3 separate regions of the Homo sapiens genome follow, and regions 2 and 3 are each linked to region 1. Evidence: fine-mapped expression QTL. A gene starts in region 1. Each other region holds a variant in brackets. All regions are shown on one strand. Distances are from middle to middle. Region 1 holds the start of SLC6A6 (solute carrier family 6 member 6). Region 2 overlaps SLC6A6 (solute carrier family 6 member 6). Region 3 overlaps SLC6A6 (solute carrier family 6 member 6).

The links.
Region 2: its variant is fine-mapped to the expression of SLC6A6 in monocytes after interferon gamma (Fairfax 2014, PIP 0.95).
Region 3: its variant is fine-mapped to the expression of SLC6A6 in whole blood (TOPMed, PIP above 0.99).

What each region holds. Positions count from the first base shown.
Region 1 is chr3:14,398,144-14,408,728 of GRCh38, forward strand. SLC6A6 (solute carrier family 6 member 6) reads left to right here and starts at 4,463. Exons shown (of 15, transcript NM_003043.6): 1 at 4,463-4,704. LOC105376959 (a long non-coding RNA gene) reads right to left here and starts at 4,264. Exons shown (of 8, transcript XR_007095825.1): 1 at 2,518-4,264; 2 at 1,001-1,094; 3 at 186-366. RefSeq lists enhancers at 3,887-3,936, 3,947-4,116, 5,437-5,496, 5,567-5,646 and silencers at 4,257-4,786, 8,061-8,231.
Region 2 is chr3:14,482,294-14,492,878 of GRCh38, forward strand. SLC6A6 (solute carrier family 6 member 6) reads left to right here. Exons shown (of 15, transcript NM_003043.6): 15 at 2,574-7,056. The coding sequence ends at 2,714. It overlaps GRIP2 (glutamate receptor interacting protein 2), which reads right to left. Exons shown (of 24, transcript NM_001080423.4): 24 at 6,814-10,585. Among named protein-coding and RNA genes, the nearest start is that of GRIP2, 53 kb to the right of the region's middle. The variant A/G (reference allele first, on the strand shown) is at 6,920.
Region 3 is chr3:14,462,801-14,473,385 of GRCh38, forward strand. SLC6A6 (solute carrier family 6 member 6) reads left to right here. Exons shown (of 15, transcript NM_003043.6): 7 at 3,716-3,850; 8 at 5,053-5,156; 9 at 5,288-5,412; 10 at 9,405-9,517. Among named protein-coding and RNA genes, the nearest start is that of SLC6A6, 65 kb to the left of the region's middle. RefSeq lists an enhancer at 9,223-10,114. The variant A/G (reference allele first, on the strand shown) is at 5,557.

The sequences.
Region 1 (10,585 bases):
ATGGAGCTGAGATTTGCAGGCAGGCAAGAGGAGGGTAGTGGGCAGGAAGCAGATCCCTGAAGGCCCAGATGCTCTGACAAGGCTCTGCAGCCACCTACACACCCAGGGACGTGGACACACTGCAGTGTGCCCAGGAAATGCTGGCCAGGTCAGGGAGGCAGCCACTCAGCAGCCCCGCCACTGACCCTTGGTCTCTTCAGGGCTGCTCCCAGGGATGATGTTCTGAGAGTTGTAAGAGGCCGACCAGACAATCCTCGATCTCCAGCAGGATCCCTGAGCTGGCCAGGTGGCCCAGCGTGGGCTGCACCTCCCACAGGCATTGCAACAACTCTTGTTGGTGGCCTGATAGACGAGACAAACTCTTCCCTAGAAAGGGGCGAGAAGTTTTGTTCAAAGTCCTAGATCAATTTTATTTTACTGTTGAGAGCTGCTAAAGAAAGTAATCATAAAGTAGGCTTTGAAAAATTTCGTTCACTGCCTCTACGTGGACGGCTGTAGACTACAGCCTGAAAATTGGCCCTCCGGGAGCTCTGTCCAGCAATCGATTTTCATTCTTGAAATGAGAAGAATTAGTCCCAGTGGAATTTCAGGCTAGTCTATGGTTCTGAGGGGAACCTCGGCCTGGCTTTCCTTGAAGCTCCCTTCTTGTTGCCAAAGCTTTCCATTTCCCTTGGTACTCACAGTTATCTTTGAGGGGGCAGGGTGCACAAAGTGCATCATGGGTCTCAAATTCAGCTCCCTGCAAGGGCCGGTAGGTGACAGAAAAGAGCAAACTAGCTAGGAGGGAGCTGTGGCACCCTGGGGAGCCCATGTGAGAGGGTGGCTAATGCCCCTCAGCTCCAGGACATTGTAGACAGGGGGTTAATGGGCCTGGGTGGCCCCATTTTGCCATATTTCAAGATAAACCAGGCATTCAGATTTTGTTGTTGTTGTTGTTGTTTGGAGACAGGGTCTTGCTCTCGCACCTAGGCTGGAGTGCAGTGGTGTAGTCATAGCTTACCGCAGCCTTCACCTCCCGGGCTCAAGTGATCCTCCTGCCTCAGCCTCCTGAGTAGCTGGGACCATAGGCATGCACCACCATACCCGGCGAATTTCTAAAAAAAATTTTCATAGAGATGGAATTTTACTTTGTTGCCCAGCCTGGCCAGATTTTTTAAATGTGAAATCTTCCAAGCTTTTATTCATAAAAATTAACTCCAAACACATTAAAGCTCAGTGACAGCCAAAGAAGCACATCTGGGAGCTGGATTCGGTTTAAGGCCTCCAGTTCGAGACTTCTCCTCTCCTCAGAATGGCTCATTGAGGCAGGGTGTATTTTATCTCATATTACAATGAGGAAACTGAGGCTCAGAGAGCAGGCCTGCAGGCCCAAGTCACACAACTGGGAAGCCACAGGGCTGAGGTGGAGCTAGGGTCTGTGGCCTCCCGCACTGAGCTCTCTCCACCCTGTGCATGCCTCTAGCTTTGGCATTGGCTCCTCCTGGCCCCTTCTCCGGTCTGACCATCCCTTTTCCACCTCATCTGCCACCTCTCCCTGGGGCTGAGGTTGGGGCTCTTCTTGCCTCCTTCTCCTCCTTTCTCTCCTTGGGGCTGGGTTTTTTTGTCTGGCAATCGCCCACCCAGAATCCCCTCATTCAAGATTGTAACCTCTGGAGCCAGGTGGCCTAGGTTTGAATTCCAGCTCTACTATCTGCCAGCTGAGTGACCTTGGGGAAGTTACTTAACTTCTCTGTGGCTCGGTTTTACCTTCTATAAAACGGAAGAAATAATTGTACCAATCTCATAGGGGTGTTGTCGGGATGAAAAGGGTTAACTTATTAAAATGCATTTAACTGTGCAGGGTACATAGTTAAGTGCCAAAGAAAAGTAAGTTAAAGCCAGGCACGGTGGCTCACGCCTGTAATCTCAGCACTTTGGGAGGCCGAGGCAGGCAGATCACCTGAGGTTGGGAGTTTGAGACCAGCCTGATCAACATGGAGAAACCCCATCTCTACTAAAAACACAAAATTAGCCAGGCGTGGTGGCGCATGCCTGTAATGCCAGCTACTAGCGGGGCTGAGGCAGGAGAATCACTTGAACCCAGGAAGCGGAGGTTACAGTGAGCTGAGATTGCGCCATTGGACTCCAGCCTGGGCAACAAGAGCGAAACTCCGTTTTAAAAGAAAAAAAAGAAAAGTACGTTAAAATAAATGCAGCAAACACTTATTGAGTACCTACTGTGTGTCAGGCCTATGATAGACTCCAGGAGTTGATGGAGGCAAAAGAACAGATCCCATCCCTCATGGAGCTGGTAACTGGATAGATGGTTCACTCGTGTGTCTTGCGCTGGCACTACCTGCATGAGGCTCCGCTGGCCTACCTGGAGGTCAAAGGATCCCATGGGCCTTTCCAAGTTGCAGCTCTGAACACACAACTCTTCCCTCCTCCCACAGCCACTGCCCTTGCTCACTCTCTCAGACCCTCAAGCTCAGCCCTGCCACCAACAACCTTGCTCTCAGGCCTTCGCACGGCAGGCACCTCTGCTAGAACTTGCTTCCTCTCCTGCCGGCTTCACTGCTCGTGGCTTAGTCAAAGCCTCCTTTTGGTTCAAACTTCAATCCTGGAGTCCCCTCCCCACGCTAGGACCTGCCCCTTTGCTTCAGTCTTTGTGCCCTGTGCGACCACACATGCACAGGGCGTCTGAGGAGTTTTTGCTTGACGTCTATTCCTGCAGTTCATGAGGGAACCTCATAGCTGAAGCAGAGGGATGTGGGAGACCCAGTCACTCCTCTTCCTCAGCTTTCGTTTGCTCACCTATAAAAGGGTACAGTGACCCTGAACTCAAAGGAGAGTGCTCAGGTGGCCAGAAGCAGATGTCACGTGGGCCACTGGGACCCTAGAGGCACTGCTGATCCCCAGGTGCTTCCTGGAGGAAGGGGCCACCCGGGGCCCGCAGAGAAGGGTGGGAAGGGTGACAGGAAGGCAAGGAAGGGCATGTGCCCAGTGGTCCTCGTCTGTCTTGGCTGGAGCCAGTATGAGGAGCACCCACTGGAAGGTCAGGTTGGAGTCCGATGGCAGGGGCCTCCAGGGAGAGCCAGTGTCACTTCGGGATGCTCCTTAGCATCCTGGGGCTGTACAGGGAGAGTGGCTGCAGAGCCCTTCCAGGCAGGGATCCTGGCCTGAGTGGGGGCAGCTCTTGGTCGGACCTGTGTGGTATTTCTTCTTCTTCTTCTTTTTTGTTTTTTTGAGACTCATTCTTGTCACCCAGGCTGGAGTGCAGTGGCGTGATCTCGGCTCACTGCAACCTCCGCCTCCCGGGTTCAAGGGATTCTCCTGCCTCAGCCTCCTGAGTAGCTGGGATTATAGGCACCCGGCACCACGCCAGGCTAATTTTTGTACTTTTAGTAGAGACGGAGTTTCGCCATGTTGGCCAGGCTGGTCTCGAACTCCTGACCTCAGGTGATCTGCCCCCTCGGCCTCCCAAAGTGCTGGGATTACAGGCATGAGCCACCGCGCCTGGCCGGTATTTCTTCTTTCATTCTCCGTGTAAATGGTGGAAGGATCGGCTCTCTCCTCCCCGCCTCCCAGGTGCAGAGAGAGAGAGAGAGAGAGAGGGACAGGAGAAGGCTGGGGTTCGGGGTTCTCACAGCGTTTCCCTCTCATGCTGCCAGGGCGGGGCAGTGGAAAATGGTCCCTGAGGGCCCGTTCATTCAAATAAGGACAAGAATAATGGCACACTCCCCATCTCCATTTAAAAATAGTCACATTAGCTGACACTGGCTTGGCACTTCCTAGATGCCGGGTGCGTTCCGAGTTCTCTACGCTGTTAACCTTGGATCTTCATAACAGCCGGAGGAGACAAGCGCTACTATTTTCCTTTCCATTTTATAGATGAGGACACTGAGGCAGAGAAATTGAGTCACTTGCCCAGGGTCACACAGCCATGGCAAGGCCAGGATTCTGGAGCTCTGTACCTGGCTTCACACCACAAGCTCAGGCCACCCTCCCGGGGCATACCGAGTCTCCCAGAACGTGGACGATCGCCCAGGGCAACGCAGTGGAGTGCGAGCCCGGTCTGGTTTGCACCTGGCTGCTCCAGGAGCCCTGGGCCTCATCCTAGGAGCCTGGCGGAAGAGGCGAGCGGTGGAGTTTGGAGGCTGCTGTGAAGGAAAGGACTAGGCGGGTCGGGTCGGGTCTGTCCTGCTCTTCTTCCGCAGGCAGGAGGCGCCCAGGGCGGGCTGCCGCACCTGGCAACGAACGTTCGCCGCGCGGCATGAGGGTGTGCGCGCGCGCTCGGCGAGCCCGGGTTCTTTGTGTGTCCGAGCCCATGCGCGCGTGCGTGTTTGCGTGTATGTGTGTGCATGTGTATGTGTGCGCGCGTGTGTCCGCACTTGGGGCGGGGCTGGAAGCCCCGGCCCCGCCCCGGCCCCGCCCCCGGCCCGGCCGAGCTGGTATTTTTCCACCCAGCAGGATGGGTGATGCTGAGAGCTGCCTGCTCAGACAACAGACACGCGAGGTCAGGAAGAAGCCGCTTATAAATTACCGCTTCCTTCGCGCCGCCGCCAACGCCGAGCCCCGAGGACCGCAAGCCCAGAGGACAAGCTGCGCCAAGAGGGAGTGCGGAGCGTTCACCCAGCGGGTCAGAGAGCGAGCGGGCAGGCAGCCCCCGGCCGGCGGAACCCGGCACAGCCGAGCAGAGCGCGGGCGGCGCCGCAGCCACCCCAGGTACCGGAGGGACCGGGAGCTGGGCGCGCAGCCGGCGCTGCCCGCCGTCTGCAGCCCCTCCCCATCCCCGCGTCGCCGCAGTCCCGGCCTCCTCCCCTCCGCGTGCGCCCATCCGGCGCCCCTTTCACCACCGCGGAAGGGACCGAGAGTCGCCTGCTCAGTCCCGCTGGCGGGGCTGTTATTGTTTCCCCGGCAAAAGGGCTCCGGCTCTTGGTGCGGGCGGCAGGAGAGTGTGTGTGTGTGTGTGTGTGTGTGTGTGTGTGTGTGTGTGTGTGTGGCATATCTGTGTGCCTGTCTCCGTCAGGATGCCTACATGTGCCTCCGTATCCCTGTGTCTGTGTTTCTGAGGGTGACTGTTTCACCGTGTCCCCAGCAGCGTGCACATGTGTGTTCCGGTGCATGTCTGTTATTCTCTGCGTGCTGGGCTGTGTGTGTGTGCCTCTCTGTGTGTGATACCTGAGTGTGCTGTCTTTGGATGTGTGCTCTTGTGTGTCCCCGTTTGTGTCTGCATGAATCTGTGTGTGGGGGGCTGCGTCTTCCAGGCCCTGGCTAGGTGCACGTGCGTGTCCCTGAGTGTGGTTGTGTCTCCAGGTCCCTGGTTGTGGGCACTCGTGTGTCCTCGGCTGTACCCAAGAGGGTGTCCCTGGTGCCTAGAGGGTCCAATGGCCAGAGCTGGTTCTCCAGGGCCGGCGCTGAGTGGGGAGAGGTGATAGGGCAGCGTGGCTCCATAGGTGCATGCACTCCATAGGTGGTGTGCAGGTGGCAGCGCCAGCGTCCAGCAGTCCTGAGTGGTGGGACCAAGGCCCGGAGGGGCAGCCAAGGGGTAGTGGACAGCCGGCAGGGCCAGCAGGACACTTCCCCCTCCAGACTATTTCTCTTCCTTCTGTGGGTTCCTCTTTTGAGTAGGAGATTCTCGTCCCCCTCCCACTAGGGAAGCCACACAGAGAGAATTCCAGGGACCTCCTCCTACAGCCTCAAAGCTTCAGCCTGGACTTCAGCCTGGACTGGAGAGGAGACCTGTGGGCAGCTCTCCCAGGCAGGGAGGTGTGTGCCGGGTAGGGCCACCGGCCTGGCTATTTTGGTCACTGTTGGGCCTCTGCCAGATCCCGGCATCCCCAGGACCAGCCCCAAAAGCTTGGGAGGCAGCCTGGGCCCCCGTTTCCTGTCTGGGGAAATAAATCAGCTCAGTAATTGCCCAGACACTTGAATGGAGGGTCTTCGGGCTGAGGTTTACTGGCGCATGGCTCCATTTGGACTTCACTAAATTGGCCCCCGCTTTGGCACAGCTGACGTTCAAGTAAATGTCACTGAGGAGATCTTTTTAAAATTTCTTTTTAATTTTTTGTTGGCTAGAAGGGAGGGGATCTTGTCCAGAGTCTCCTAGCCAGAAGGAGTTTATTTTTATGAGAGAGAGAGCGGGTGAGTGCTTAGCAACCACCTGCCTCCCTCTCGACCAGGGAGTCACCCAGGGATTGTGGGGTGGGCATGAGGAGGTGGGGTGGGGGAGGAATTTCATCAAGATGGTGTTGGAGAGGATCCAAAGGGGGCCTAGCACGGCTAAGAACCCCCAACAGGGTGGGACTGGTAGAATGGTGGGAGGTGTTAGGCCTGGCTCAGCCCCCAGTTGACCTTGGGCAACCCTTTTTCTGCCTCAGTTTCCTTACCTGTAAAATGGGTGGGGCAGACTGGTTATAGAGTAAACCAGGGACCAGAGGTAGGAGCTTGTCCCCAGGGAACTGATTTAAGTCCTATGCTTTGTTTTAATGGGTGGGTGACCTTGGTTGATTCCCTTGGTTTCTTTGAGCCTCGGCTTGGCTGCCTGGGCAGCAAGGACACCAGTGCCGGCCTCACTACGTCCTTGAGGGGATTGAGGGAGATGAGGCTGAATAAGCTTGTAGTAAGCTGTAAAGCCGGGCTCGGCTGTAGAGCTGCTGATTAGAGGGTGTCACGAGGTCCTGGGTCACTGTGGTGTATGGCAAGGGCCAAGGTGCATTCTGGAGGCTTTGTCCTTTGGGGACACCCTTGTACTAACCCATGGCTCAGCTGCAATCATCCTCCCCTGCCTCCTTCCCGTCACCTCAACCTGTGGTGATTGGACCACATCTGCTTTTCAGAGTCTGGAGGCCTGGTGAGCAGTACCCATTTTATAGATGGACAAACTGAGAGCCACCTAAGGGACTTTGCCTTGACTGGACAAAATTAAGTTTCAAAAGGTTTTCCCTAGCTCAGCTGTGAGTTTTGGCCCCATGGGGCTTTGGTCACTGATATCCTCGGGAGTTGAAATTGAACCGGGGCCTGGGGAAAATGAGGAACAAAGGTGTCCCAGTCCTTAGGGCAGGAAAGTGAGCCTATGGGACCCATTTGCACCTTGCTTCTGTCCCTAGTTACTCATTCTCCCTTCCTTGTGCCTTCCCCTGAGCCCTGCTACCCATTCTGCTGCAGGGGTCAGCCCTCCACAAGGCAGTCCGGGCTCTGGGGACTCTGTTTTCTAACCTGAACTTGTCCGCCTGTCAGTTTGTCAAAGGATTTGGGAGGTGTACTTCTCTGAAAGTCTTTCCAAAAGTCCTGAATGATAAGAAACTTGTGAGTCATTGAACACATTCCCGTATATAGAAAAAGCTGAGAAGTAAATTATAAGGGCTCCCCAGAATGCAGCTTAGCTGCAGCCAGAGGGGGTCTGCCTGGGAATTGGGGTTGGCCTGAAATCCCAGGGCCACCCTGGCAGGTACATGCTGATTCCCCACTTCTGCAGAAGGTCATGAGCAAGAGTCAGATTCTTTGGGGCTGCATCTCATTTTCCTGTGTTTGCCAACTTGGCCAGAGCGTTCGTTTGAATTTATGGGTTCTGGGCAGGAGCTGTGGATCTGGAAATGCCTAAGGAAGCCTTCAAGTGAGAATGAGAGCGCTTTTTTAATGTGCTTCATTTAGTTGATTAATAGACCTTGGTTAAGGTCAGCTCTGGGCTGGCACTGGGTTCAAGGTAGAGTGTTGGCTTTCTAGGAGCTCCTGTCCCAGAGGTAGAAGCATGTGGTAACTGCAATGGCCATTACCATCCGTAGGATACAGTGAAGAAGACCCAAGGAGCAGCTGAGTGTGCAGTGAGGGTGGGGTAGTGGGCAGGAGGCACTTTCGCTTCCTAGAGGACACAGTGTCGGAGTTGCCATTGTCTGTGGGTGGAGAAACAGGATGGGCTGGCATTCTCCACAGGGGGCAGAGTAGCCACAAGGGCACAGTGGCGTGAAATAGCCAAGCATGTTTGTAGAACAGGTTCCCCGGGTCCTAGCTGGAGAGAGGAATAGGAGCCAGATGGTGGGGAGGGGGGCGTTTTATTTTTTCACATATAAAAATAGAGACAGGGTCTTACTATGTTGCCCAGGATGGTCTCAAGCTCCTGGGCTCAGGCAATCTTCTCGCCTCAGCCTCCCAAGTGTTGATTATAGGTGTGAGCCACCGTGCCAGCCGGAGGGCCTTGAATGCTGTGTAAGTGGGTTTGGGCTTTCTCCTGATGGCAGCAGGAGTCATACTGGGTTTAAGGATAGTGGGGCAGAAGCCAGTCAAGCCTGGAGCCCAGGAGAACCCTGATGGTGAGTAAGGAACGGAACTGGGGTCCAGGAGACGGAGAGTCACCGAGCCACTAAGCATTTTCTGTACCAATGAGTCTTGCCCTGAACTCTTTCTGTAAACATGGGGGTGAAGGCCTGGACATGCTATTTAACCGGTACACAGGCCATTAACTTGCTGGCTTTGACCTCCCTGGAGCACACAGCCCTAGTGTCTCTAGGTGAGTTATGCCAGTCCTGGACAGGTCTGCGGAGTTTCCTTTCCTGCCTTACCTGGTCAGAGGCTTCATTTGGAAACCTGGGCAGAGGCTGATGCCAAGGGTGGGAGTTAGGGTTACGAGAGGGAAAGCAGAGAGAGTGAGGAATTGCTGTTCTGTTTCTAAAGCTCCAGCGTTGTGTGGCCAACCACCCTTCTCTTGGAAAAACCAACATACAAATAATAAACCACCTGAAACAAAAGAGTGGGGAGGGAATGATGGGGGAGGCAGGTGGGCTGCCCTAACTGTGGTCAGGTATCAGAATTGCCTGGGATACTTAAAAACAAACAAACAAACATATTCAGACTCCCAGGCCCAGCCTGGACATACTGAATCAGAACCTCCAGGGGGATGGAGCCTGGGAATCTGTATTTTTAAAGTTTTTCTTGTGGTTTTTTTTTTTGAGACAGGGTCTGACTTCGTTGCCCAGGCTGGAGTGCAGTGGTGCCATCACAGTTCACTGCAGCCTCGATCTCCTGGGCTCAAGTGATCCTCCCACCTCAGCCTTCCAAGTAGCTGGGACTACAGGCATGCACCACCACTCCAGGCTAATTTTTGTATTTTTTGTACGGAGGAGGTTTCACCATGTTGCCTGGGCTGGTCTTGAACTCCTGAGCTCAAGCGATCCTCCCACCTTAGATGATTTTTAAAAAATGTTTTTTAAATTGAGTTATGATTTACATGCAGTAATATGCAAAGATTCTGTTACGGTTTGATGAGTTTTGACAAATGTATACACCTGTGTAACCACCACCCAAATCAAGATATAGAACATTTCCAGCACCTCAGAAAGTTGTCTTGTGCTCCTCACCTCACAAGACAGCCACTTTCTCCGTTTTCTTTTTCTTTTTTTTTTTTTTTGAGACAGAGTCTTATTCTGTTTCCCAGGCTGGAGTGCAGTGGCATGATCTCTACTGCAGCCTCGACCTCCCCAGTCTCAGATGATCCTCCCACCTCACTTCCCAAGTAGCTGGGACTACAGGCGCACGCCACCACACCTGGCTAGTTTCTTTTGTATTTCTTGTAGAGACAGGGTTTTGCTGTGTTGCCAGGCTGGTGTCAAACTACTAGGCTTAAACGATCCACCCTTGCGGGCCTCCCAGAGTGCTGGGATTACAGGCATGCCCCACCATACCAGGCCCACTTTCTGATTTCTGTCACCATAAATTAGTTTTGCCAGTCTAAATCCTCATATAAATGGACTTATTTAGTGTATACTCTTTTGTCCATTTTTTTCTGCCTCACATTGCTGGGATCCATCTGTGCTGTTGAGTATATCAGGAGTTGATTTTTTTTTTTATCGCTGAGTAGTCTCCCATTGTATGGATGTTCCACAATGCGTTCATCCATGCTGTTGATGGACATTTGGGTTGTTTCCAGCTGGGGGGCAGCTATTACTAATAAAGCTTCTATGTGCATATTTCTGTACAAGTGTTTTTGTGGACATATATTTTCCTTTCTCTAGGACTAGAGCTGCTGGGTTATAAGGTAGTAGATATGTGTTAACTTTTTGAGAAACTGGTAAACCATTCACTTTTAATTATAAAAGTAATATACCTCAAGCAATACGAAACTGCATAAACTAAAAAGTGATCCTTTCGGATCATTATAAAAAAGTACAATCTGATCTTCAGTCTGTCCACCTGCCTGATTGACAGTCTATCATATCTCTTTCTTTTTTTTTTTTTGAGACAGAGTCTTGCTCTGTCACCCAGGCTGGAGTGCAGTGGCTTGACCTCAGCTCACTGCAACCTCCGCCTCCCAGGTTCAAGCGATTCTCCTGCCTCAGCCTTCTGAGTAGCTGGGACTACCGGCACGTGCCATTATGCCTGGCTAATTTTTGTATTTTTAGTAGAGACAGGGTTTCACCATGTTGGCCAGGCTGGTCTCTAACTCCTGACCTCAAGTGATCCGCCTGCCTTGGCCTTCGAAAATGCTGGGCAGTCTATCATATCTCTTTTTAATATAAGGTTATACATTTCCCTCTGCATACAGCTTAAACTTTATCCAGGTGTGCATATGGACATAGACTCCTTTTTGTTACTTACTGGATCAGTTTTCACT
Region 2 (10,585 bases), 84 kb after region 1:
ATTGAGGAGCCAAATTTAGGATCATCCCAGCCCATGCTGGGGTCTTCTCCGGATCTGTGGCGGCAGCCAGACCTCTGCCTCTGTGCCTGCTGGGGCCTCCCCTGGCCCCACCTACCTTCAGCCTCCTCTCAGAAATTCCTCCAACAGCCCTGGAGATCCCAGGCCCTGGCAAAGGCCCTACTCTTTCCAAGAAATTCTTTTCTCAGAATCTCCCTTAACCTTTTGAGCTTGGGCTGGCTCCAAGAGTGCACTGTTTTGTTCTGGGCTGTTTTTATTGTTATTCTCTTTTAAAAATCTGGAGCCAGGATGTCCTGGGGCCCTGGCTCCCTGCTGGGCTGGGTCCTGTTTCCTCCTGGGCAGGGGAATGGCCTGGAGGTGGTGCTGGTGGCAGGGGAGGGAGGGGAGACTGAGGAAGCTGGCAGGGCAGGAGGAAATCCTTGAAACTGGGGGGGCCCCTGGGGTTATCCTGGAGCTTTTGACCCATTCTATTTTTTCAGAGGACAGAGGGCAGCACCCCAACCAGTCTTTAGCCAGAACGCTAAATGGCCCTATGAGCTGTTAACAGACTGAAATACTGGGCCTGGGGACAGGCAGGGAACAGTGACTGTCCCGAGCCCTCCAGGTGACCCCACAATACTCCAGGCCAACCCAACCAGAGTTTCCAGAATGTCCTTACTGTCCAGAAGCCAAAGGGTTCATTAGGGCACAGCAAGGGGTCTCTAAAGGTTCTGATTGGTCTAGGGGTCTCTGCTCTGATTGGTGAGTGCCCAAAGCAATTACATACCATTGGTTCAGGGGGACACCCAACAGGTCACTAACTTGGTGTCCTTCAAAGCCTCATTTTAAAATATTGGTCCAGCCCACATTTAGAAGTTTGGGTGGAGTGGGGTTGGCATGGGGGAAAGAGGTGGGGGAGTGGGTGAGGGCAGGCTTCACCCCACACTGGTACCCCGTCCTCCTGTGCCAGTCTGACTTCACCAAAGGCCCCTGTGAAGGCAGTTGAGCCACCATCTGTCTGTCTTTCTTTATGTGCCCCTCAGGGGCTCCCACCTGCACAAGTCATCAAGGTGTCCTCCCAGCCATGAGCTTCTCTCTGAGCCAGGTTCTGGCAAACCCAGATCTCTGTCCCAGGATGGTTCCAGCTCTGCCTGAGCCTCCTGTGTAGGCAGAGCCCCAAGTGGCTGCCTGGGGGTTTGACTCTCCTCCGCCCTCCCAGGCACAGCCCATTGTATGGATGTGGAGAGGCAAAGTGATGGAGGGAGAGCTGGCAGGTGGCTCAGGTGAGGGAAGTCATGGGGGTAGGGCTGGGAGCAAACTGGAGAAGGTGCTACAAGGAGGGGACCTGGGCCTGGAGTTGCCAGATCTTGCAGCTTTTCAAGAAAAGATGGAAAACTGGATTTAAAAACAAAAAAAATAGAGACAGGGTCTTGCTCCTTTGCCCAGGCTGGAGTGCAGTGGCTCAATCACAGCCTCAAATTCCTGGGCTCAAGCAATCTTCTTTCCTCAGCCTCCCGAGTAACTTGGACTACAGGCACGTACCACCATGCCTGGCTAATTTTTAATTTTTTTTTTTAAGAGTTAGGGTCTCACTGTGTTGCCCAGACTGCCTTTAAATCCTGACCTTGAGCGATCCTCCTGCTTCCCAAAGTGCTGGGATTACCGAAAACTGGGTTTTTAAATGAAATACTGTAGCTTTTAATAAGCAGCTTTTAAAAATTTGTAACATACCTAAGTTGAATATAAATGCCTAGAAAGAGGGCTTGTTGTTTTGTTTGTTTGTCTTTCAACTGCTGGCCTATTCAAGTCTCTGAGTTGACAGTTGGCAAGAGGTGGACTGGGGAGTGGGAGTCTGGTTGAGTCCCAGTTCTGACATGGATTTTCTGGGTATCCTTGGAGAGGGACACTCAACCAACTGTGAGGACAAAACTCACCCTGCTCAGGAGTGATCTAGAATTCCCATGCAGCTCCTATCTCTTGGAAGGGCAGCTCAAATGCGAGCAAGGTTCTCCAAGCCCTTAAGATGTAAACCCTGCTGGGAGGACTGGATGCCTTCAGGAAACTAGGGAAGACCTGTCTCTGCAAGAAGGCAGGAAGTGTAGCTTATGGGAGGCTGAGGAGTTTGGAGTTTCTCCTTGGGGAAGGTGGGAGCCATGGAGGCTGAAGACAGTTGTCCAACTCAGGGCATACAAATGAGAGGAACTCAACTGCTGCTTTGCAAGGCAGAGAAATCAGAGGGAGAGAATCACAGGGAGGCATATTTTAGTTCCATAGAAGAAAAAAAGCACATGAAGGTTGAGTCCCCCATCCCTGTAGGAACGTAAGCAGGGGTTTGGCCAAGGAAGGAAACCACCAACAGGAATTCCGCCTTGAGTCAGGGCCTAGTGGCACCTTAGGAGCGCCTTAGTTCAATTCCATTATTTCCAAAAAGGACAAAAACAGGAGATCAGAGAGGGTGTGAGTTTACCAAAAACCAAACAGCACATGAGCCAATTCAGGAGGAGGCAGATGGCCCTGGCGAAGGGGAGACCAGGCCGCCTGACGTTTCCCCCCTCACTCCTGTCATCCTTCTCCAGAGAGTCAAGTACCTGCTGACCCCAAGGGAACCCAACCGCTGGGCTGTGGAGCGCGAGGGAGCCACACCTTACAACTCTCGCACCGTCATGAACGGCGCTCTCGTGAAACCGACCCACATCATTGTGGAGACCATGATGTGAGCTCTCTCGGGTCGACGGGGCCGGCGGCTTTCCTGCTGTTTACTAACATTAGATTCTCATAGGACCAGGTTTACAGAGCTTTATATTTGCACTAGGATTTTTTTTTTTTTGTAATTGTCACAGAAAATGTAATTGTGGGTATGTGTGCGTGCGTGTGTGTGTGTGTGTGTATCGTGTGTGTGTGTTTTGTTTTGATTTGGGGGATATTTTGTACAAAAAGAAAACCCACGGGAAGATGTCCGTGGAGAGGCAGAGCTTTCATACTGAATTAGATGTATTTTATGGGAATTTGGTAAATTTTTCTTTGTATTTTTTTTTTTACATATAAGTATATATACACTTAGAGATTGTCATATACTTTTACCACTTGAATTGATCTTCTTGCCAGCAATAGATCTCATTTTCAAAAGCAATTCTTCGGTGCTGTGTAGCTGGCAGAAAGTTCTGTCCAGTAAACGCAGGATGGAATTTTCCTGGGACTCTACACCCATCTTAAGGTGGTATACCTTCCAAATCCTGGTTCAGATGGAAGAAATAGCAGGAGAGAGGACCCATTAGCTGGCAGACCCAGGGGGAAGAAAGGAGGGCTGTGAGGAGATACCTCATTAAACTTGGCTTAGTGAAGAAGAGAGATGCCAAAGGAATGAACCAACCCTTCACATAAAGGAGACTGGCTGAAGCTGAATGAGGAGGCCCTATAGCAGAAGTCTGATTCTAAGAGCAGTAGAAACTTGTACCAGAAGCAAAATCCCACTTTTAATTTTGAGATGGTGAGTGGATAGTCAGTAGACCGTCAGAACCACTGGCCAGAGAGGGAGCTGCTAGAGATCCAAGAAGGCTGGCAGGAGTGAGGCTCACAACTCAGCCTCGCAAGAGGTGGCAGAGGCACAGGAGGCCACAGTCCTTCCTGGGGCATTCCAGGCAGAGAAGGAGCAGAGGCTCTCCCGGCAGGAGCTGGGGTCTCAGGGCTCAGATGAGTCTGTTGCATTTGAATGGGGTCATAGCAGGTTCTGGTCATTCCCCAAGCAACATCTCAGCATCTCTTAAAGTTGCCTGCAGGAATGAAGCATGACATACCTGTTGAGGGACTAGGGGAGTGGTGGGGAGGTGAGTGGACCAAAGGATATAGGCCCCAGGCATGCAGATGGGCCCGGTGTCGGGGAGGGGTGCTTTCTTTCCTCATCTCCCCACTCCCCACTCTCAGCCTGGGAGACTCCTGCCAAGCCCTCATTAAAGATGCCACCCTGGGCTGCCCTGGCACCTAGCAAGGCACACCAAGAACAGCTTTTGAGTCTGTATCCTCCACTGGGGGAAGTGCTCCCAGTTCAGAACAAGGGCAGCCCGTGGTGCTGACCTAGGATATAACAAAGCTCTTCACTTCAAAACCCCTGCAATAGCTGGGTTTACAGACATTTACCACCTGCGGACCCAAAAGAGAAGGCCTAGGAGAGTTTTCTAGAAGGTTGGGATTGTCAGGGTCCTGGCCCCTCAGAACTGGCTTGATCAAGGGCCTTATGTGGAGCAGAGGTTGTCTCTGAACCAGGAGAGAAGGTACTATACCTTTCAAATCCCCAGGGCAGACACACCCCCACCCAGCCCCTATTTGGACCTAAACTGTGCCATTTGAACAGTCACTTCCAAGCTCAGTCTAAATGAAACCGAAACGTGACCACGCACAAAGGCAGTCACTGCCTCGAGGGGTGCAGACCGCAGAATTTTCACAGCAGGGGCTCTTGGAACCCTGGAAACCCCCTTCTTAAATTTGGGAGGAGGAGTATGCCTTTGGTGTCCCCCTCCCAAGGGGCAATTCTGAACCCCATCTTTGGCAGGCATACATATTTCACTGTTTCCAAAGCTATCTACTCTGCCAAACAACACCCAGTCCTATTCCAAACTCTCAACGATTCTATCTTGTTCCTGTTTTTCTATGTATTTATGGTTGCCGTTTGTGTCTGATTTGATTTTACTGTTTTTTCCCTGATTTTATGGAGTAGCATTGTGACCTGTTTTCCTTTGTCTTATATAACTTTAGTAAACTAACCACTGTCAATGATTGAGGGCAGGTGGCACGTGGGGAAGAGGGGACTTGGCACGCAGTGGCTACCTGGGCATTTGTGGTCATTTCAGTTTCCATCTCCCCAGCGGGGGCTCCCTGGGTGAAAGGCCACAGTATTTTGGGTTGGTAGGCAAATTGCAACATTCTGGACATGGCCTGAGGAAGGCCTCTTCTTATAAGATTCTCAGACCAAATTCTAGACCAAAGACACAGGCAGACCAAGTCCCCAGGCCCCGCCTGGAAGGAAGTCGTTCCTCAACTCTCCCCAAGGCACCTGTCTCCAATCAGAGCCCTCTCGCCCAGCCAGCCCTGGCTCTGTGTGCAGAGCATAGCTCTGCGAGTACCTGTGTAATAATGCTCAACCTTCATGTCTCCGTATAAACGAAACTTTCCATGAGAGCTCATGACTCTGGTCCACCTGTCTATAGAGAATGGGCAAAGTCCTTCACCTGCTTTCTGCTTGGGATGGGTCAGAAATGCTGATGCCCGCACATAGCCCAGCCAGCCAGATCTGGAAAGGAAGCGAGGGGGTTGTTTAAATCAATTTTTTAAGATGAAGAAGTGGGAGACACTGCGTTGAGATGGGCCATGCTAGGGCCACAGAGATTTCCTGACGGTCAGGGAGAGAAGGGCCTCCAGGGTCCCCTAACCCAACGCCCTTGTTGTAAATGAGGTAACTGAGGCTCAGGGAGGCACTGTGAGCCAGGAATGGATTTTCTTGAAACAGCTCTAGCTGCAGGTTCTCCGAGGTAGGTGCAGGGAATGGTGAGTGTCTAACCAGGGCTACATCCAGCAACATCCTCAAGGTCTTCCTGACAACCAAAGACAAGCCTTTATGGAAAAGGAAATGCGCTCCCCTCCATGTTCAGGGATGAGGGGAGCAGCAGCAGCCACACTCCCACCATCCTCACAGAATTCCTGGACCCATGCGGTGGCTCCGTGAGCTGGGTGACTCCAGCCTCACCTGCACACCCCAGCCCTGCACGGGGCCCTCCTTCCTCCCAGCAGCCCTTGGTGAGCTAGGAATTGAGATCCCTGTTTGTGAAAGAGGGAACTGAGGTGCAGAGAAGCCAGAGGTGTGCCAGATCCTTAGGCAGGATTTAGATGAAGTCGCCCTGGCTCCAGACTGACCCCGAGGCTCTGCGGGGAGTTTCCAGGCAGCAGGAAGTGGCCTTGGATGCTCTCCTTCCAGGACAGCATAACCCCTGGGCCATGTGCAGCTCCTTCACTGCCCCCTGGATCCCCAGCATACCCCCAAAGACAGTGGGGAAACACAAGGGGAGAGCACAGCATGGCCCCTCCAGCCCACTTCAGGGCACTCTTGTATCACCCGGGTACCGCCACACTGGTCCCCCACCCAGCCAGCATCTCCCAGCACAGCCCCTCTCCCTGGGGAAATGCTCTGGGTAGCCAGTCTAAAGGCAGAGGCACCTAACTGCTCCCCGCAGCCCACCCCACCCAAGATTCAGACACAAGCCAGGAAAGGACCCAAGAGAAAATCCTTCAAGGTGGCCTGAGGTCCCATCCCTCCCTCAGACCCATGTGGTCCCAGGCCAGGCTGCCTGGGACACGGTAAATACCACTGTGTGCAAAAATCGAAGTACAAAACCACAAGACTAAACAAAACAAACCCAGAGAGCCAAACTTGTAGAGGTGGGCAGTCCAGAAAGCAGGGGGCAGCCCTCCCCCTTTCCTTCTCTCCCTGATCCTCAGAATATATATTGTTGTAATAGGAAGCATTTTTGCATTGTTCTCTTGTGGGTGTCACTACAGACATGTTCTGGCGTGTTCTCCGAGGGATGGAGCATCCTGTTATATATTTGACTTCAAATTGAGATGTTGGCTTCATTTTTTTTTTTTACCCAATTAATCTCCCAATCCCTAGCAACTGTGACTCTGTATTTAGCACAAGAGAAAGCTGAGAATGTGGGTCTTGCCTCCTTCCAGAAATATGTCTGGCTCATCAGGACATTTTTTTAAAACTTCAAAATATTTTTAAGATATTTTAAACTTTTATAAAAAAAAAATCAACCAACAAGAGACTTTTCTGAGGAGGAACATTTGTATTTGAACAAGATCCTTGGTGTGTAGTTCAGTCTTGCAGTATACAAGCTTTTGTGTATAAATGTTTTATGATATGATTCCCTGT[A/G]TTTTGCAGGGGTTTTTTTCTCTTTTGCTTTTTAGATAAATATGTATATCAATATTTTAAATTCATCTTTGCTTTTTTTAGAGGAGTTTGTAATCACCTTATAACATGAAAATAAACATTTCCTTTTTAACATCCAACATGTGTGGGTTGTGTTCTGGTGAGGTATTTCCCCCTCAACGTTTGCCAAACGCTTTACATTTTATAAAGGGCTTCCCGTCCAATCCCAGGACGCTCCTCAAAGGTAGGTATTTTCCCAGGTTAGAGGTTCCCACATGGAGGCTCACAGAGGAAGCAGCTTGCTCACTCAGGGGTACACAGCAAGTCCATGAAAGAACCTGGATTCGCACCCGGGCCCATGAGCTCTTGGCTCTACTGGCTCTACTGATTCTACCTGCTACATGCCCAGCCCTGTACAGCTGGGAGATCTGGCAGCAGTCACCTGAGCCTCAGTTTCCCCATCTGGAATAAACCATTGTCCCCATCAAGGCCACCAGGATGATTGGAGGTGATGCTCTTGGCCTTAGGTGCTCACCTGCTGCGGCTTTCAGTCCCTCCTCTTTAGCCTTGGGCTGACCTGCCAGAAGGGCAGAAAGCGGGTGGCGGAGTGGGGGAAAGGGTAGAGGGGGAGCAAACCTGATTGCCCTTCTCCCACTCCCCCACCGTCAGGTGCAGGCGCTCATTAATACCCAGTTAGGGGCTCTCTGGGGTCACAACAGGTCCATGTTTGGGGCAGCCTTCCTGCCAACAGCGCCCCCCACCCTTTGGGATGGACAAACTCGGGAGTCAGTTGAGCCCTTTGCCCAACTAACCAGACAAAATTCTCAGTAACTCATTTATAGACAATGTTAGAATAGAAGACCACCCTACCCCCATTTTCTGGCTCTTTCTGACAGCCTATGCCTACCTGCCTGCCTCTCTCTATGTGTACTGGGCCATGTGGCTTGTGTTCAAGCCCTGGTTCCATCCCTTACTACCTGTGTGGACTTGGGCAAATTACGTAACCTCTCTGTGCCTGTTTCCTCATCTGTAATGATGGGACAGGAATAGAGCCCACCTCCAAAGGCTATTGGGAGGATCCAGCAAGCTCTTGCAAAGCGCTTAGAGCAAGGCCTGCTGCCTCCCTTGGCCTTCCCCCTGCCTACACCACTCCCAAGACAGAGTACTCGCTTCCTGGAAAGAAGCTCTTCCTCTGCTCACAGAACTGTGGCCTCCCCAGTGGGGCCTGGCCCTGGCCTCTGGGTCCCAGACCCTGTAGCTCACCTGCCCTAGACACTCTCTGGACACTCCAGGGCAGCAGCCAGACCTGAGGCTGCCCTCCTGCCACTACCTTCCCAACCTGGGCTAAAGAGACTCCATATGCAGGCACCACTGCCTGCCTCTGGCTTTCTGCTGCGCAGAGAATCAAATTTGCTCCCCCTACCCAAGCCTTCACGACTGATTCCTGCTACCTCCAACCTAGTCTCCAGCCCCATTCCCCTCCCAGGCCTTCTTTCTCTTCCTTGAGACCGTCAAACTCGTTCCTATCTCAGGGCCTTTGCACTAGCTGTGCCCGCTGCCTGAGACACTCTTCCTCCAGGTCTCCATGGAGGCTGGCTCCTGTCTTCAGGTCTCATTGCAAATGTCGCCTCTTGAGAGAAACCCCTCCTAATATTGTGAGCTAAAGCCCCTCACCCTGGTCCCTCTATCCCGTTACTCCCTTGTTTTCTTTGTTGCACTTGATGCCTTTTGAAATAATTATTTATTTGCTTACTTGTTGATTGTCTGCCTGCCACCAGAATGTGCAGACATGACCTAAATCTGTCTGATTCATGTTGCCCAGGGGCTGGATGATGGAAGCAAATGGCAAACTTTTTGAATTAATGAATCATCAAAAGCAGGTGAGATGTCACCAGACCCATACAGAAGCTGACTCTTGCCAATCCATGATTTTTTTAAAAAGCAAACTTCTACTCTAGGTGGATTTAAATAATTTTATTTTAAAAAATCATCCCCATGGCACCTACCCCCAAGCCACTGCAACCCCTGGTGGGACAAAGACTTAGACGAGGGCCCCAAACAGACCATAAGCGGCCTTTGCAATACAGCCCCTTGTGCTTCCCGAGAGCCCTAAGAAAACCCGATGTAGAAAAATACTTTACAAGGAATGTGTTCTAATCTCAGCCAGAGAAAAATACAGCTTTGGGGGAGAGGGCAGGTGGAAGGGGACATGTCACAGGGGCTGTTCCCAAAATGCATAGGCAGGCAGGGCGCTCACTGGGGAAAGGTGTCAGGAAATTTCAAGTCGGGGATGAACCATCCCCATGAGAAGCCAGAAGAAATATTGCATATGAGGAGGCCGGCATGGCTGGGAGGCCCACCGCGGGCCTGATTGCATACTTTTGGGAGAATGGCAGAGGCCTCAGCCCGAGGAGGGAGGGGGGTATTAGTTAGAGTCGGGTGCATCTTCCCTCGCCTGGAGTCCTGGAGTCAATGCAGTTTTCCCAAGCCGAGAGGCCCTGAGAGTGTGTCCTGTCCAGCCCTGTTGCTTAGCAGAGGTCCAGAGAGGCTGAGCCACCTGTCCAAGGTCACACAGCTATGGCTGCTTGCATCCAGAAGCCACACCTCTGCTGTGCTGTCCCTCACCCTCAAAAGTGAGGGCTCTTGGCTTTCACTTGGTGCCCTGTGACAGGTAGACAGTGCCCTTTCACTCTGGGCTGAGTACACGGGAATCCAAGATAGCAGAGGCGCTGAGCACCCCAGGCACAAGCATGCAGGGCCCTCAGGGAGGGCACCAAGGGGCAGAGCCCAGCGAAGTGGAGGGGAGGGGTAAGGGAGGCAGGCCTCCAGGAGACAGCGTGGGCAGGTCCCCAAGGGGGCCTTGGTGGGTCGGCAGAGATGGTTCCGGCCCTGACCAGGAGGCCTGTGTCTGCTCAGACTGTCCACCCGTGATCGTCCAGAGGGGCTGGGGGTCCAACCCAGACAGGGTCACACAGCAAACAGGTAACAGACCCAGGGTGAAAAGAACAGACCTCTTGACTCCTCATCTGTTCCCTCAAATGGAAGAGCACTTTTCTGGCCTCCAGGGACCCCAGGTTGGAGACAGATGGAGGTGGGAGTGGGTGCCCCGTTTTCCTGAGACCCCTGTGAGAACTGGGCCAGGCAAAGCACATCCCCAGCCCTGGCTACACCTGCCCGCCCACTCCATCCCAGGCACCACTCACTAGACCACCAGGGGAGGCCCACACCCTTCTCAAAATGAAGAGGGTCTCTGATTTGTGGACACTGAGGACAATGATTTTAAGGGATGCTGGTGCTTCCAGATTTCAAGTGGGAATAGACTTCTTTGAATAAGCACTTTGGACACCCTCCACTGGGCAAGAGTGTCCCATCTTTTTCTCTGGCCCATTTCTCTCCCATCTCCCTCCCTCTTTCTCCTCTTCCTCCACTGATCTGGCTGTAAAGAGGAGCGCTACCGCCTCACAGGTCCTGCGTCCATCGCTTTTCAATTTTCACTGGATGGCAGGTGAATGGAAGCTCCAGGGTCTTTTGCCCCAAAATGACCCCTCCCACATGGAGGGGCTTGGGCTGAGCGGACGTGCAGATGGGTCAGTGGCCACACGGCCTACAGAAGAAGCAGGAGGGCTGAGAGCCCAAGGCCCATAGAGCCTGCCCAATGGGCCCAGAACC
Region 3 (10,585 bases), 65 kb after region 1:
AACACACACATTTTCCATAGGGTAGGGTGTGTACACACGGTGGAGGAAGGAGACACATGCCTAGATGTGTGGGTGGATGGCTCATTTCTTGTCTCTTTGTCCGGCACCTGTGAAGATGAGCTGTGAGTTTACATTGTCAGGGTGAGGGAGGCCGCCTGGGGAGATACGTGGCCTGTATCTCACAACTCTCTGCTGAAGAACAGAAAGCAGGCCGGTTTTGTGCGTGTGTGTGACTCACTTCCCAAGCTTAACTTTTTCCTTCTGCATAGTGAGTTTGGGGTCCTGAGATTTTATTTTCCCTTCACACGGCTGAGGTGGCGTGACCAGGATTTGGGGAGGAACAATGACACACATCCCAAAGGTGTGGGGACCTGACACCAGCTGGCCTGGATCCATCCCGCATCCACCACCAGTAACTGTGATTGCAGGCAGGTGCCCCCACCTCTCTGGGCAGTCTCCTCATCTAGAAAATGCAGGTGAGGCTGATGCCTGGCTCTTCTCAGTTGTCTGAGGATTAAATGAGTTAAAACTCACGAAGCCCTTAGCTGAGTGCCCCGCACAAAATCCGCACTGCATAAGTGCTTGTTAAATAAACTAACTACGTGAAAACAAAGAAAGCCACCTCCACACCCCTGTCCCTGACACAAAGCCCTCTGGTCACAGACCACTGGGTTGCTTGGCCCAGTGGAGGCCTGGCTGGCTTTGAAGTGGCCGCCCTCTGGAGACCCCTGCGGGGCTGCTGTCAGCAGCTATTGTTCGCCAGCCCGGGTGTGGCCCACAAAGGGCCCCAGAGGTGGGAACTGGTCGGGGCGCCTGGCCGCCTGTCCGCCTGTCCTCAGGAAGGGAGAGGCAGGTTGGTTTTCTTTTTTCACTTCTTTCCCCCCTTCTGTGGCTTCCTGATGTGCCCCCGCCCTCCACGTCTGCCTTCCCATCCTCGGGAAATCATGTAGGCTCCTGGCCTCAAGGAGAAGAGATGACGGTGGCTGGAGAAACTGAGGCCTGGAGGAACAAAGGACGCCCGGGGGCAGAGGCAGCAGTAGGGCCCAGCCTGTCAGTGTCGGAGAGCCATCCTGACAGTGCCGGCCAAAGAGGCTTCTTGAATGCTCACCGCAGGCCAGGGGCCATCGAGCAAGGTCAGCGTTCCCTTATCCTCAGTGGACAGATGGGGAAGCTGAGGCCCAGGTCACCAGCAAGGGGTGGCAGAGGCAGCGTGCAACCCCTGGTAGAGGTGGCTCCCCAGCTGACCCACAGCCTCTCTACCCCTCGACCTAGAGTGGCAGAGTGGGAGGCAACCTCAGAGCTCCTACGGTCCCAGCCCTTTACTTCCTGGTGGGGAAACAGTCTAGAGCGGACAGCGGCTTCCTGGAGGTCTCATGGCAAGCCAGCCTCTAAGCTTGGCTTCAGACCTGAGGGCCTCCCTACTGGCTGCCCTCTGGTCTTGGGGAGAATCAGTAAACTGCCAGTTGTGGGAGGCTTTTTGCTGGTCTGCTATGTGTGGGCTGTGGGGCAGGTCCCCATTCTGTTGCTTAAGCCCACGTGACCCTGGGCAAGTGATGGACTCTCTCTGGGCCTCAGTTTTATTGTTGCAAAATGGAGATAGTAATACAACTTACCTCAGAGGGTTAGGGCACGGGCCAGTGAAAATAGACGTCACAGCATTTGGAACAGTGCTAGGCACACAGTAAGTGCTCAATAAACGCTGCCTAGGGGTTGTTGGGCTGAGGGCAGCTGAGCTAAGCAGGCCCTGAAAGCTTCCTTTTTGCCCTTTTCCAAAGCCCCTTTCTCATTGTTTCTACTCAAAGGGATCATGGCCACAAGAATTTGCTCTGTCGAGGGTCGTGGTGCCAGCTAGGTGAGGTTTGGGGCTCTGTCACTATTGGTCAGTGTCTGTTACATACTTGGGCCCCAGCAGTGCCCTGGCACTGCACCCCCAACTCCATGGGCACATTTGTCCTGTTCTCTTCATCTCAGTTTCCTCTCCTGTAAAATGGGTGCATTGACTGTGCAGTGGTTCCTCCAAGGTCCCCTGATCCCCAGATGCGGCCCAGGGCTCTGCCAACCAGTCTCAATGTTTCAAGGTGGCCACCATGAACTTTCTGCATGTCGAAGTAAAACACTTCATGCCTTTCTGCACAGAGGTTAGCCCTCCACAGGCTCTGGGTTCAAATCCTGGATTCCGTTGATGCCCTGGGCACGTCCTTAAAGCCCACCAAGCCTCAGTTTCTCCACTGTAAACCACCGTCCTGGGGGGCATGGTGAGGATGAAGTGGGCTTGTGCCTGGGACGTTCCTACTCAGCCAGTGCCCTGCCTGAAACACTAGGATCGAACTGTCCATTCAGCCAGGCACCTTCGAACTCCTCCCAGGCATAATCTCTGTCTGGAAACTCCTTGTGTTGAATAAGATGGGAAAATCCATCCATGAGAACTGAAGCCACAAACAGCGCTTGCAGGACAAGAGGAGAGAAGGTCTTTGGGAGGAGATGGCCACATCGTTTCTAGTCCCCACCTCACACCTGATCTTGGCCTGTCTGGAACATGCAGTGTGACCCAGGGAAGGCCATGGGTCTCCCAGAGGCCCGGTGAAGCGGGGAGCCTTTCCTATTCCCAGTTAAGGGCCTTTGAGAGGCCTCATTTTCTTCCCTGAAGGTCTCGTCCTTCCAGCAAAATCAGTGTCAACAACAGGCCCTCTTTCTGGAGCACCTACTGAGTGGCAGTGTTACAAGCATCATCCTATTGAATCCTCAGCTCACCCCTTGTTGAGGGGCTTCTATTACTCTTATCTGAATTCTACTCATGAGGAAACAGGTCCAGAGAGGTTAAGCAATGTGCCTAAGATCACACAGCAAATGAGGGGACGGAGCTGGGATTTGAACCCTTGCTTATCTGATCCCTAACCATAGGAATCATACCAACATTGTAGTTAGTTGTTAACTAATATGACCTGCATGCAATGGGCACATGCCATGGTTGGCAACCACTGGGCTGAGGCTTCTACACACGCACTTGATAGCTTACTCTCTGATTTTGCTTTTTCCACCTCTACGCCCTGGAATGTCAGTTCCACGAAGGCAGGGATTTGTTTTCTGTCTTATCCACCACTGTATTTTGTGCTTAGATGGTGCCTGGGACAAACTATTTATAGGATGTTTTTCATTTAATCTCAGTAAATCTGTGAGGTGGGCTGGCGCTGTGGCTCATGCCTATAATCCCAGCACTTTGGGAGGCTGAGGCAGGTGGATCATTTGAGGCCAGGAGTTTGAGACCAGCCTGGCCAACCTGGTGAAACCCCATCTCTACTAAAAATACAAGAATTAGCTGGGCATGGTGGTGGGCACCCGTAATCCCAGCTACTCGAGAGGCTGAGCCAGGAGAATCACTTGAACCCAGGAGGCGGAGGTTGCAGTGAGCCGAGATCGTGCCATTGCACTCCAGCCTGGGTGACAGCGAGGCTCCGTCTCAAATTTAAAAAAAAAAAAAAAAAAAAAAAGAAATCTGTGAGGTAGGTACCTGTATATACCCAGATTACAGATGAGGCAGCTGAGACCCAGAGTGGTTAAGCAATGTGCCAAAGGCCGCACAGCAAGTAAGACAGCAAACCTGGCTCCAGAACTCCTGATCCTGACCAGTGCTCCCCTCTGCCTCTCTGAGAGGATGCTCAGACTTAGCAGCAGCAAGTGATGCCCATGGCCTCCTGAATCCCTCTCGCCCTTGCAGGTCGTCTACTTCACAGCCACTTTTCCATTCGCCATGCTCCTGGTGCTGCTGGTCCGAGGGCTGACGCTGCCGGGCGCGGGCGCAGGCATCAAGTTCTATCTGTATCCTGACATCACCCGCCTTGAGGACCCACAGGTACTGTGGGGCTGGGACACACCATCCTCCCTCCCATCCAGGGCTGGGCCGGCACAGGACAGGGCAGGATGTAGAGGCCACTGGCAGCACATCTTCCGTGGTTCTTCAGTGCACAGGTCTAGCTGGGCCACCGCCCCCTGGTACTTTTCCACCGGGCCTGTGGCGGGTGTGCCTGTCCACGGTGCTGATGGACCTTTCTAGCTGTGTGCATCTCTTTTCATGTCAAGGACGTCTGAGGGTGGCCACTTAGAGAGGCTGCTTTAGGCCCTGCACCAAGGGGGAGAAATCTTCTGATGAGCAAGTCTCCCGCTCGGACCCAGCTTCTGCCCACTGCAGCCACAAGGGCTGCTGCATCCTGGGGATGGGAGAGTCGGGGCCTGGAGAGCTGCGGGCTTCCTTGGCTGAGGGTGGAATTCAGAGTTAATGGCCTTGGAGGGTCCACGGGCAGATACCGAAAGCACACCTTCTGGCACTCAGCCTTGTGACCTTGGGGAGGTGGAGAAAGCCCTGGGAGATTTTCTGGGTTTGTTTGAGGACCTGAATCCCCAGGGCCTTCCGGTTGCTTCCCAAGGGCCTGTGCTCTCCTTCCCCACCACCCTTCCCCCTGGACAGGACACAGTTGTGAGAGGGGTTGGCCAGCCTTGGAGGACAGCTGGGAACGAGCTGCTTAGTGAAGATTCTGGAGAGCAGCTTTGCCTGCATAGTTCCTTGGGACCTCCTTCTGCATTCTAACTCGGGGGTCTGCAAACAGTAACAACAATGGTGGTGACAGCAGCCTTGACTTACGGGCTTGCCATGTAACTGGCACTGGGCTGAATCGCCACTCTTTGAACCTGGGAAATAGCTCTATGGGGTAGGGCAAAGGAGCCCATTTTATAGATGTGAAAACTATCTATAAACTGCAGGAGTGATATTTACTTGCCCACTGTCATTCCAGGGTTGGAATCCAGATCCATCTGCTTCTGAATCCTCTTAACCCTGATGCTAGGTCGCTGGGAGGTGGGGTGTTTGATTTCTGGGGCTCCTTGCAGCTCAGTACTGCCTTGAAAGGCACCTTGGATTCGAGCATAAATGTTCCATTTGCATGTGCAAGGTCCCGTCCCCAGGCCATCGCCAGGTGGACATAACCCTCGCTGCCTCCTCCAGGAAGCCAGCTCTGACAGCCCTCCTCTCTTTCCTTGCCACCTCCCTCCCCCTCATAGGTGTGGATTGACGCTGGGACTCAGATATTCTTCTCTTATGCCATCTGCCTGGGGGCTATGACCTCGCTGGGGAGCTACAACAAGTACAAGTATAACTCGTACAGGCAAGTGTTGCGCCGGCGGGCCTGGTGGACTTTAGAAATGATGATGATGATGTTTAAAGAAAAAGAGAAGTAGGGAGCGTGGCTTCCTTGTGTTGTGAATTAACTTGCTCCCTGACATATGTGTAACTTAGGGACTGTATGCTGCTGGGATGCCTGAACAGTGGTACCAGTTTTGTGTCTGGCTTCGCAATTTTTTCCATCCTGGGCTTCATGGCACAAGAGCAAGGGGTGGACATTGCTGATGTGGCTGAGTCAGGTACGGTGGTATCGGTGGCAGTGGTGGTGGGCACTGCCACCTAGTGTGTAAGCCAAGTACTGCAGGCATGAAGCCAGACCCCAGGGGGCTTTGAGGGGGGACGAGCCTGGTTTCTAAAATGGACCCCCCCCCCGCCACCAAGAT[A/G]TCCCCCAAATTTCAAAGAGTACAAAGCCAAATTTTAAACATTTGTATTGCAATTTGGCCCTGATGGGTGGCAAAAGCATGGGGGGTGGTTAAGTTGGGGAATTTTTAGCTACCTTAGTGTGGTCTTCCCCGCCCCCCCGTCCTTCCCCAGCAAACTCCTGGTTTCCACAATAGAAACCACTTTCCTAACTCAGGCCCAAGTCAGCCACCAATCGGCATTCCATCACCACCTTCTCAGCCTTGGTTTCTGTATTTTGCACTTTGCTCCCAGCGTGCTCCCTCTAAGCAGACGCATTCATCCATCCCACCGATTTCTCGTGAATGAGTCCCAACTCTGTGTCAGGCACCACCGTAGGCACTGGGTGCAGTGTGTGGGGGGAGGGCGTAGATGAGGGGACGACCTACTGGGACGGTGGCAGATCCAACTGGGGGTGGGTTGTAAGCACAGTGTCGCCCCTCGGGGTGTGGGCCCTGTTGACCAGGCACTCTTCCTCGGGCTACCTGGAGTCACAGGCATGGAGGATGCCAGTGGCTTAGAATCACGGACTCTGCACAGACGGGGAACTTAGGAATCTGGGATCCCAGAGTTCCAGCAAGGTGCTTCTGGAACCTGAGAATCATGGGGCCTTCAGTTGCTAGAATCTGCAATCTCTCAGGTGCCTCGATTCTGGGACTTGGCCATGGCTGCTTGAGGTCCTGGGTCTGTAGCTTTAATTGCAGTGGCTTGGGTTATGGGATTCCCTCAGGCTCCCAGGATCCTCAAAGTCCACCTTTCCGACCTCTCCACCCTTCCCCGGCCCTGCACAGTTTACTTGGAGGGTGGTCATCAGTTGGTTTTGTTATTTTACATGCTGAGCCCCCAGCCCCACCCCGTCCATGTCCTAATTTCATACAACTTCCCTGGGGCTACCTGGAGGTGGCAAGGTCCTGGGCTGAGGCTCCTTCCAAGCCGAAGGGAGAGCGTGGGGGTTATTAACTTCAGGGACCACCATAGACTAGGGCCAGACACAGCCGGAGGCCCTGCCATTCCACTGCCCTTGACCTCCTGTGCCATCTGTATTTGGAACATGAGGCGATGTCCCAGTCCCTGAGTCCTAGAGCCCTAGCACTGGGGGGTCAGAAGGTGCCTCAGCATCGCGTGTCCAGATGTTCCCTTCTCAGATGAGGAGACCAGCAACCTGAGAGCAAGGGCTTTGCTTGGGATAGGTGGGGCTACAACAGGGCTTTCTGAACATCCTGTCCACTATTTCTCCACTTGTCACACGCTGGACAGGCCTTCTGACACAAGGGTGTCCCCCTCCTGCCATCCAGCCCACCCTGGACACATGCAACAACCTCTGGCCCTTCCAGTGTGAGAATTTGGCCCTTGTGACCTCCCAGAGCCCCTGGCCCCTCCTCACTGTCTTCTTTGCTTGGCAGAGATGCACACTGCCCAGCCCCATCCTGAGACCCCTGACAACACTGCAGGACCCCCTTGGCAAATCCACATGTCACCCCCACACACCTCTCCACTGTCCCTGCTTCCAAAGTGGACCCTCAGATGTACTGTTCCCTCCACTGAGCCCAAAGAGCCCCCAAAAGCAGGCCAGAGACTGAGGACACAGAATGTAACTCCAGAAGTCCCCACGCCCCTTAGGGAGTTTGGCAATTAGAGTGGTGAGGGGGAGCCAGAGATGATTTATACCTCCTCTGTAGATGGCTTGCTTTCAGCTGAGGGCTTGCAAACCAATCGCAATTGAGTGGGAATCTCCAGGAGTATGGAGTGAATTTGGCAATGGGAGATACAGATAGATACATACAATGTATCTTCCTCCATGGACAACGAAGTATTTTCGTAGACACATATATTGTCAATCTCAGTTGTTTTTTCCTCCCGTCCACTTCAAACACCTTGTCATTTATTCCCCACGGTGATGTCTGAACAGCCGGCACATCAAGGGTGATTATTTCTCTAATAAGCTTTTAACAAGCACCATATTGAGTGAAGTGCATTTGAACAAGATAATTATTTAGCCTAACAGAGTGCAAACAAGACGTGGCATGGCACATTGTCTGCTAGCAGAGAGGCATCCAGAGGTTCTCGGAGTGGCTGGATTATGTCTCCTGGACTTCTCTCTCTTGAGTTCACCATGCACTTTTAGAGAAAGACGCTCAGACCCTCTCCCAGAGGCTCGCTTGAGAAAGGCAAAACTAAAATACAGAAACGAGCGAATTGAGAATCTTCACAACGTCCCTGGTGGGTTGGGGGTTGTGGGGGCCCATTTTGCATCTGTCTTGCAGCTGGCTGGACTCGATTCCTCATTCAGTGTGGACCAGTCAGGGCCAACGCTGATGTTCTGTAGGGACCAGTGGGGCCCCGGTCTGGGTGGAAACGCCGCGGCTTTTGACTCCAACTTCAACTTTGATTCAAAAGTCATCTCACCGGGTCCTGGGGTCCATATTTTTCTGAACCTGGCCCTGGTTCTTTTGGGCATGTTCTGAGCAGTTTTGGGCTTGGTAACCCCCGCTCCTGATGGGGGTCTCCAGCATCTCAGCGAGCAACCACTCTGTCGCTGCCCAAGGATATATTTTGGTCAGGTTTTCTCTGGATTGTAAAAGGACACACCCTTCCCTGGCACACTGGGGGTGTTAACACCGTATAATGTGGTTTCTGGTTCCAATTTATTGTAAAGTTGGGTTTTGCTTTTTGTTTTTCATTCTTGAGCCATTCGTCTGGTTTCTAATCCCTGCTGAACAGCTCCTGCTCTGGCCCTTTTTGTTTCCTGCTTCTTGACTTTTTTTTTTTTTTTTTTTTTTAGTTGTAGATTTTACTTTCTTTTGCTGCCCTCGCTTCTCAGACCCACAGGTCTCAGTTAACAATTAAATTATTTCCGTTGGCATCCGCTTTCAGGCAGGCTGGAGACAGGAGGAGACATTTCTCTCTGTCTCCGGAATGTCTCCCATCAGAGACATCCCCTGAGCTGACAGAGCTCCCATCTCCCCAGCTCTCCCTCAGGTTCTATCCAAGTCCCTTCTTTTGAAACCCAGAGCCCTTTTCTAGTGACATGGTGTCTACCTCTGAGAATCTAAACACAGGAAGGCTCCTTGTGAGTCATTTATGGCCACCTGCCCCTCACTTTTCAGGTGGGGAAACTGAGGCCCTGAGAGGGTATGGGGTGATTCAAAAAGGAAATTGGAAGAGGATGACTTGGATGCAGGCCTCAGGGCTTGCAGGCCTGGGACCTTGCCCCTGCACCCATGTTCCCTCAGCTTTGGGCCCTGGTTGGCCCAACCTTGACCTCATGGGCTTGGCTCTGACCTTGCCAGGGAGAGCCCCACAAATGCACCCCTGAAGAGACAGGCCTCCTGTTGGGCGTGGTTTTGTATTGGTTTTTCTTTCCACTCCTATGGTGTTTTAGCCATTAACTCAAAAATAGAAACTTTCCCTTTGCAAAGGAGACTGGGCGGTCAGGTCACCACCACGCTCCCCCGCCTCCTTCCAGCAAAGGCTGTCCACTCAATGGCTTTGCTTTGGGGTGGGAGGATCCTCCCTTTCCTTTGTCTCTGCAGACCAAGCCCTGGGCTCAGTCTGCATCCTACCCCAAATAACCACGCCCCGATGGATGCTGGTGTGTGAGGAGGCCACGTGTGCTGTGTAGGAGACAGATGCTAAAACCGGGCCCCTCCTGAGCCCCAGCGTGTCCCACCCAAAGGCGAGACAGGCCTGGTCTCTTTCCCCAGGCCAGAGTTCAGACCTGGCTCCCTGCTGTATTTGGGTCTGAGTGTCTTTGTGTGAGCCCAGGGTTCCCAGTGGCTTGGTGGCTGATGTCTCCTCCCCTGTGCCCCTCCCCGTTTTCTTTCCTTTCTAGGTCCTGGCCTGGCCTTCATTGCCTACCCAAAAGCTGTGACAATGATGCCGCTGCCCACATTTTGGTCCATTCTTTTTTTTATTATGCTTCTCTTGCTTGGACTGGATAGCCAGGTGCGTATAAGGGATGGCCCTGGGGCGACTGCCCCTGTGGGGAACCTGACTCTGGGAAAGACTCCTTATTCCACCTGGGAGGTGGTCAACCCCCTTCCCCCCTCCAGTCAGACTTCCAGTGCTTCAGCTGTGAGGGTTCCTCCAGGACACCAGGAATAGAAAAAGCTCTGCGTCCCCAGAAAGTGCATTTGAACAAGATAATTATTTAGCCTAATGGAGTGCAAACAAGACGTGGCATGGCACATTATCTGCTAGCAGAGGGGCATCCAGAGGTTCTCGGAGTGGGTGGGTTATGACAGGGACAACCAGGGTTTGTGGTTACAGTCAAGCCACAAATGACGAATTGGAGGTCATGACTCAATAAGTCATGATGTGCTCCAGTGGAGCGTCGGCGGGGCACAGGAGGACATGGCAGATGGGCGATTCGGAGAAGGGACCCACATTTCTGTGTGAGCTGATCATTGTCTGGGCCATCGTAATAAGTTGCAAGTGCCCAGGAGAAGCCTACGCCACACTCAGGATTCTGTGCTCCCTGGAGCGTGCGAGGGGCTGGGCATTGGCTCCCTCCCGTGCTTTATACACCGCACAGGCCGGGAGCCTCGCTCAAACCCGCCCTGACCTCTGGCTGTCCTGGCTTCTCCCCTCCCAAGGCAGGACTCCTGTCTCCACTGAGGTTCTTTCCTGCACTTCTAAACCCCGTATCCCACCCCTTCAGGGCTCAGGCCTCCACTAGAAGGTGACTCATGGCCAGGGAATGCCAGTGAGAGCCGATGAGTGGCTGCATCTGGCTGTAGAGTAGCCAGTGCCTAGTGTGGGGTAGTCAGCAGTGCTCGGAGGACAATTCACTTGAGCTCCTGGGCCCCTTTCCCTGGAAATAGGTGTATTTTTGACAGGGTCTTGTTGAAACAACAGTTCAGAGCACAGGCATGACTCCAGGAGTAGGGATTTATGGCATGTGGGACAGGCTGGTTGTGTGCCCAGCCCAGCATGAGCCCCTCAGGCAGCGCCATGCACATGGGCCACTGAGAAGCAGGTAGGATGTAGACTGTGTAGTCTGGGTCTGGAGGT